Linked DNA regions of Homo sapiens: region 1 is linked to region 2. The links come from fine-mapping of genetic effects on plasma protein levels. Region 2 holds a variant in brackets. A gene starts in the other region. All regions are shown on their reverse strands.

Region 1 (2,914 bases), not on the chromosome of region 2:
CGTTTGCCCACCCTCAACACACGGCCCTCCTAAGACAGCACTGGAAACCGAATGCGGGTCAGAGTCGGCTAAAAACGACTTTCTCACTATTTCCTGCGCTGAATCGGGTGGCCAGGGCCCCCTCACTGTGACCTTGGAACCTCGACTTCCCACAGGGCTGTTTCCTCGCCTGTAAAGGAGGAGGGGCGTTCAGAGACCACCTCATTCTGGGTGCTGAATCCAGGCAGAATCAGAGGGAGATTCCGCCTTCCCTTCCACGCAGGGCCCCTCGAGGGAGCCTGCGAGGTCTTAAGAGTCTGGGAGAACACCCGGGGGCAGGTGCACGCCCTAGGCAAGACGCCAGGGCTAAATCCCGTGAAGAACGGTAATCCCTTCCCGATCCGGAGGGCTGACCCACTCAGAGCCTCCATGTGCTCTTGGAGGACAAAAGCCCCTTTTCCAGAAGGGAGCGCCAAGATGATCGCTCCAGGCCGCACGGGCCCTTGCGGGGGCCCCAGAGAGTCTCAGGGGAGGGTCTCTGACCCTAACACTCGCAGGCAGGGTGGACCCGTCTCCAGATTCCACGCCCAGGCCGCTTTCCCCAGGTCCTGCGGAGTCCAGCCCCAGCAGGACGGGTTGGGCAGGCACCAACCAGCCCCTGACCCCTGGCTCCAGGCCAAAGGGGACGCTCACCCAGGCTTTGGGTCTCCCTTCTCCTGGCCGATGGGACCGGCGGGCGGGCCACCTCCAACCGCCTTCGCAGACGCCCTCACCCAGGAAGCAGGTCACCCCCAACCCCAGGTGACCGAAAAGCAAGACGCCCACCTCCCCTGACCAAGACCGGCCTGGCCAGGACCCCCTGGCTCCCGCCTCCAAGCAGGGAGCTTCACGCCCACACACAGAGGCCGGGCTCGAGGCCGGAGCGCCCGGGGGAGCCCGGCAGGCCGCGCCGGGAGGAACCTCTAGTCCCCCCTCAAACCCTGGGACTTCACCCCCAAGCTCCATGCTGGCGCGGGAAGCCCCCGGGGCCGGCCTTTCGCACCCCAGGCCGCCCCGCGCCGAGGCCCCAGGCTCCCGTCGGCTTCGGGTCGGCACCGCGGCCTCCATTCCCGGCCCCTGCAGGACCGCACCCCCGCCCCCTACCCGCTCCTCACCAGCCCCGGAGGCTCCGTGGGTGCCCAGCAGCGCGAATCCCAGCAGCACGAACAGCGCAGCCGCCATGATTCCTATTCCTCGCCGGTCCTACAACCTCCAACCGCTGCCGCCGCCGCCCGCGGCCGCTATAAAAAGCGGCGGAGGCGCGGACCGGGCGCGCGCACGCACGGCGTCATCTCGGGGGCGGGGCGAGCGCCGGGGACGCCGGTCGCCCCGCCTGCGCACGCGCGCACACGCTCGCATGTACGCGCCGGCTCCGGCAGGCTCACGCTACGGAATCCGGGCGGCGGCGCACGTGACCCGGCGTTGCTAGGAAACGGGAGTGGGGCCTGCGGGGACGCGGCTGGAGCCTGCGCATTTCTTCCTTCCTGCTTTCAAAGTTGCAATGAGCGCAGAGCGGTGCGCCCGAGGGGGTTGAAGCGTTGAAAGTGTGTTACCCAGATTTTATCTGAGTTAAACACGGGCCGGCCGCTGTGGCTCACGTCTGTACTCCCAGAGCCTTGGGAGGTCGAGGCGGGAAGATCGCTTGAGCCCGGGAGCTCGAGACCAGACGCGGCAACATGGCGAGACGCACATCTCTGCCTTTAAAAATGTACATATATATATATATATATGAACGTATTAATAAATTAGGTGGGAGGAAGTGACCTCCTCCGCCCAAATAAAAATACTTAAAGGGCACTTGAATCTGGATCTCAGAAAATGAATAATTTCTTAGTATAAACGTCCTGTGCACCATTTGGTTGGGACAAGTAAGTTCCTCTTCAGAAACTCAACTTCCAGGTCTAAAGTTGTCAATCAACCTTACCCCCTTCTTCTTTCCTCGCAGGTGGCGCGTTTACCCTATTTTAAAAAAGTTTTAAGTTTTAGCCAACCGGGATCAGCTTAGATTGTGGGCGTCCAACCCCAGCCAACAGGGAAAGGACAGAGGAACAGAAGCTCCCTTCCTTTGTCCCGTGTGCTCTGGAGATTGCATCCCACGCAGGCAGCCCCCTTCCGTACAAGTAAAGTGGTCTCGCTGAGAAATTTTCTAAGTGCTGGTTTCTCTTTGCGGGACCGACTCGCCGCCCCCAAATATCCCATTTGGATCCCATTCTGTTTCAGGAGAGGCTGGCGGTTACCTTTCTTGGGGAGACGCGTCCGACTGCTTCATTGTGGGGGCCTCAGGAGCGGAGGATCGGGTCCCGCCCGAGGTGACGCGTAAACCCAGACTCTCAGCAACGCGGGTAGGAAGGACCCTTGAAGTTCCGCGGCGACCACGGTGAGAAAAGTCGCTATTGGGGCGACACAGGTGGGGGCGTCTCTTGGAGGTTGAAAGTGTGTGTTGGAAGTTAAACTCGGAGTCGCAATGCAAGAGGACCGCAGACTAAGCCGAACGCGAAGGGCTAACTGGAAAGGGGCAGGAATGTGGCTACACTGGCGGGAAGAGCCCGTGGCGACGGGAGGGGGATGTGCAGAGTGGGTGGCAGGTGCCATCTCTGCAGATCAGGACCGGCGGGAAACTTGTTTACTGAGACTCAGACGGGGAGGCCCAGAGGGTGAGGAAGTCAGGTTGGCCTTGGAAGTAGGAAACGAAGAACGAGGGCGCTGAACGAGCCAAACCTTTGAAGAGGAACTTGTGAATGAATGAGACGCGCCATATCTTTTGTGTGTGTGTGTGTTGGAGTCTCGCTGTGTCACCCAGGCTGGAGTGCAGCGGCGCGATCTCGACTCTCTGCAACCTCCGCCTCCCGGGTTCAAGCGATTCTCCTGCCTCAGCCTCCTGAGTAGCTGGGATTAC
Region 2 (2,914 bases):
GCAGGAGATAATTACGTTGGTTTAAGAAGGGAGGTTTTTTCACTACACAGAAATGGATTATTTTTAGTGAATTAAACAGTACAAATACAACTAGGATTCACCAGGAGGTAGAAGTGGGAACTAAAAATCACCAGGATCCATGATAGTGAATGTTTTTCACTTTTCTCTCTGTATCTCTACCTCTGGGTCCTTCTGAACTTTTCTTCCCTGCTTCTCTTTGCAATTCTGCTTCATTTTCCAGCTTCTCACCAGCCTTCTCTCTCTTTGTTCCTCAGTTCCAAAATGGCCATTCTAGTTTGCAGCCTCAGCCCCTAAGTCTGTGTCATTCAACTGGACTATTACCCCCTGCTAACTGAAACAGTCTTTCTGTGTGCCAGTTCCAGGTCCCCCAGAGAGACTCAGGGTCAGGTAGCCATCTTTTGTCTAATCAATTATTACCAAGAGGATGGGTCATGCATTCTGCACTTAGCAGGTCCTATGAGAGTGAGCACCCTGAGACAGGACAGATAGTTTCTTCTGGGAGACTGGCATGCGATTTGGAGGTGGTCGTGATTGTCGTCTTCAGTAAAACAGCATGTTGCTGGTACTACTACTATTAATAGTTCTACTACTATTATTTAACCAATGCAAAATAGCAATACTGTTTAGTTTAGCTTATAGAGGAAGAAGCACTATAGTCATAACTATTCTTTGTGTGCATTATATAAAAAAGAAATGTCCATTTTTAGTTTGGTAAAACAATGTAATCATGCCAGTAGTGGAAATTTTCAACAATAAAATTCATTCATAGTTCTATCACTGTAATCCGAGTCATTGATTTTTTCCTTTCTAGGCTTTTCCATAAGCATATGAAATTTTTATAGTCATAATCATAGAATTCTGTATTCTACTTTTTAAATGTATTATTATTCTGTGTGTCCTATCAAGTAGGTCATTATAATTTACTTATAATGGTGTACAGTTGTTTACAATTATAAATAGTCTAGTAAAATTATTTGGGCATAGGGCTTTTCGCTACTTTTGAATTATTTCCTTTGGATACGTTTCTATGAGAATTAATGGGTCCAAAAATTATGTTGGTTTTTATGGTTCTTGATGCATAAAATTAATTCTGTCATTGTAAAAAATCAGTAACAATTAGTAGATAGATCTTTTTAATGGCTGGATATTTTGATGTTTGCTGTATTTATTTTCTGGCTAGATGACAATGAGGGGAGCAGCAGTGATACTGCC[C/T]CTCTGTTCCAGATGGCAGGTGATGGAAAGGATACAGATGACATCAAGATCCCCATGCTGTTCTTATTCAGCAAAGAAGGAAGTATCATACTGGATGCCATCCGGGAATATGAGGAGGTAGAAGTGCTCCTCTCTGATAAAGCAAAAGATCGAGGTAAGAGTAAAATACCATTTGTTTTTTTATGCAGCGTAATATTAATTTTGCTAGTTTGATAACAAGAATGAGTCACAAAAAATTGTTTTGGGGGGTTCACTGTGAAAACAAGTAAAACTTTTAGAAGATGATTTCAAAATATATTTTTCTTTTGGAAATAAGAATAATAAAACATTTATTTTGCTTTGTTTTCTGAGTTAGGATGTTTTTAGACATATGTTTTTATGTGTGATTTGTAATTTTTGCCCTGAGTCTGTTCAGGTGATAAAAATACAAGAGACTGCTTCAGGAAAGCCATTTTAACATCCGGAAATGTTCACAATTTGATTTCACTGATACTACATCTTACATGTCTTTTATAAGGAATGAGAAGACATATATAGAATGTTGTATACAATATCATAGTAGTTAGTCTCAACAGGCCACCTATAATCAAATGACTGCTGTCTTGGTGAAGGCAATAGAAATCTAGCAGCTTCTTCCCAATGAGATCTAAGTTTATCACATGGATATAAGAGTTACAAATGGCTGTTTCTGAAAAACAAGATAGCATGTCTTAATTTATGAGAGTAGATAGTCCTCTGTAGGCCAAAATGTTTGTTAGTAATTTGAAATGTCTTTGAAACCCAAATTACAATATAAATGCAAGGCCTTACTAGTATTCTTACATAGTTTCACACCCAGGGATAGAGGAGAAATGAGGGAATGTGAGCCTTCAGATCTTGCTTGTGGTAGCAGTCTTTCCTGTCTGCTGGAGAGACCTGAAGAGAGAGCTAAAGTTCTCCCATACCCTTAAATAGATGAAGTTGCATAATAGTACAGGGTTGTTACATCCCCTGGGGTGTTTGACAGATATGTAGGAAACTGATTCAATTCAATGTGACTTCCAAGTGGGACATTTAAAAAAAAATGTTCGGTGATAATCATGCTAGCATAATCATGCTAGCCTAATTTTGTCTTCTTGTATTGCTTTATTCTTCTTTGAGATTCTTTGAAATGTCAATTATTTATGAGCAATGGAGTGAGCAAGTAGGTTGTTTGTATATAACAATGTATAGATGGAAACAGAACAGAATACAAAGGTTTTCTAGTCTTAAATCCTCTGTATACCTGATTTTTTTTTCCTGGGCCCTTTTCTAAACTCAGATCTTCTTGCCTACATATATGCATTTAGGCACATCTAACATAGGCAAATTATTATTTCTTGTAACTCTTTAATGCATTTGCTTTTTTTCCCCCTATTTTGTGCTACCACTGGAATTTCAGCAGCAATATTAAAAGGTAAAATGATTCCAAGCTACATTATTAATAGTAGTAAGTATCTTGCATTAACAAGCCTTAAATTATATACGTATATATGTATTTGGGTGTGTGTACACACACTCAAGTACATATATAATTTTGTTTCAGTGGATACCATGATAATATCTTGTGTAACGTAATTAGATTATTTTCATGTCTAGTCAGCAGTCACATAATAATTTTAAATTCTAATAATTATACATCCCATACAATAGATGAATTCTA

Direction of the effects. Positions count from the first base shown, and alleles are read on the strand shown. Strength reflects both the effect of a copy and how common the allele is.
As copies of T replace C in region 2, the plasma level of the protein whose gene starts at base 1,239 in region 1 goes up (weak association).

The links. A credible set is the group of variants that fine-mapping cannot tell apart. PIP is the posterior inclusion probability: the model's chance that the variant is causal. Protein levels are from antibody-based Olink assays in UK Biobank. Linkage for the fine-mapping came from a reference panel and not from the study's own genotypes, which makes the PIPs less certain.
Region 1: it holds the start of BSG, and the variant in region 2 is the best candidate, but not a certain one, in a credible set for the plasma level of the BSG protein (UK Biobank, PIP 0.76).

What each region holds. Positions count from the first base shown.
Region 1 is chr19:570,921-573,834 of GRCh38, reverse strand. It overlaps BSG (basigin (Ok blood group)), which reads right to left and starts at 1,239. Exons shown (of 9, transcript NM_001728.4): 1 at 1,134-1,239. The coding sequence starts at 1,200. BSG-AS1 (BSG antisense RNA 1) reads left to right here and starts at 1,587. Exons shown (of 3, transcript NR_184018.1): 1 at 1,587-1,726; 2 at 2,239-2,395. RefSeq lists silencers at 899-1,078, 1,249-1,468 and enhancers at 2,289-2,338, 2,419-2,914.
Region 2 is chr1:184,701,284-184,704,197 of GRCh38, reverse strand. EDEM3 (ER degradation enhancing alpha-mannosidase like protein 3) reads left to right here. Exons shown (of 20, transcript NM_025191.4): 19 at 1,202-1,387. Among named protein-coding and RNA genes, the nearest start is that of EDEM3, 52 kb to the left of the region's middle. The variant C/T (reference allele first, on the strand shown) is at 1,234.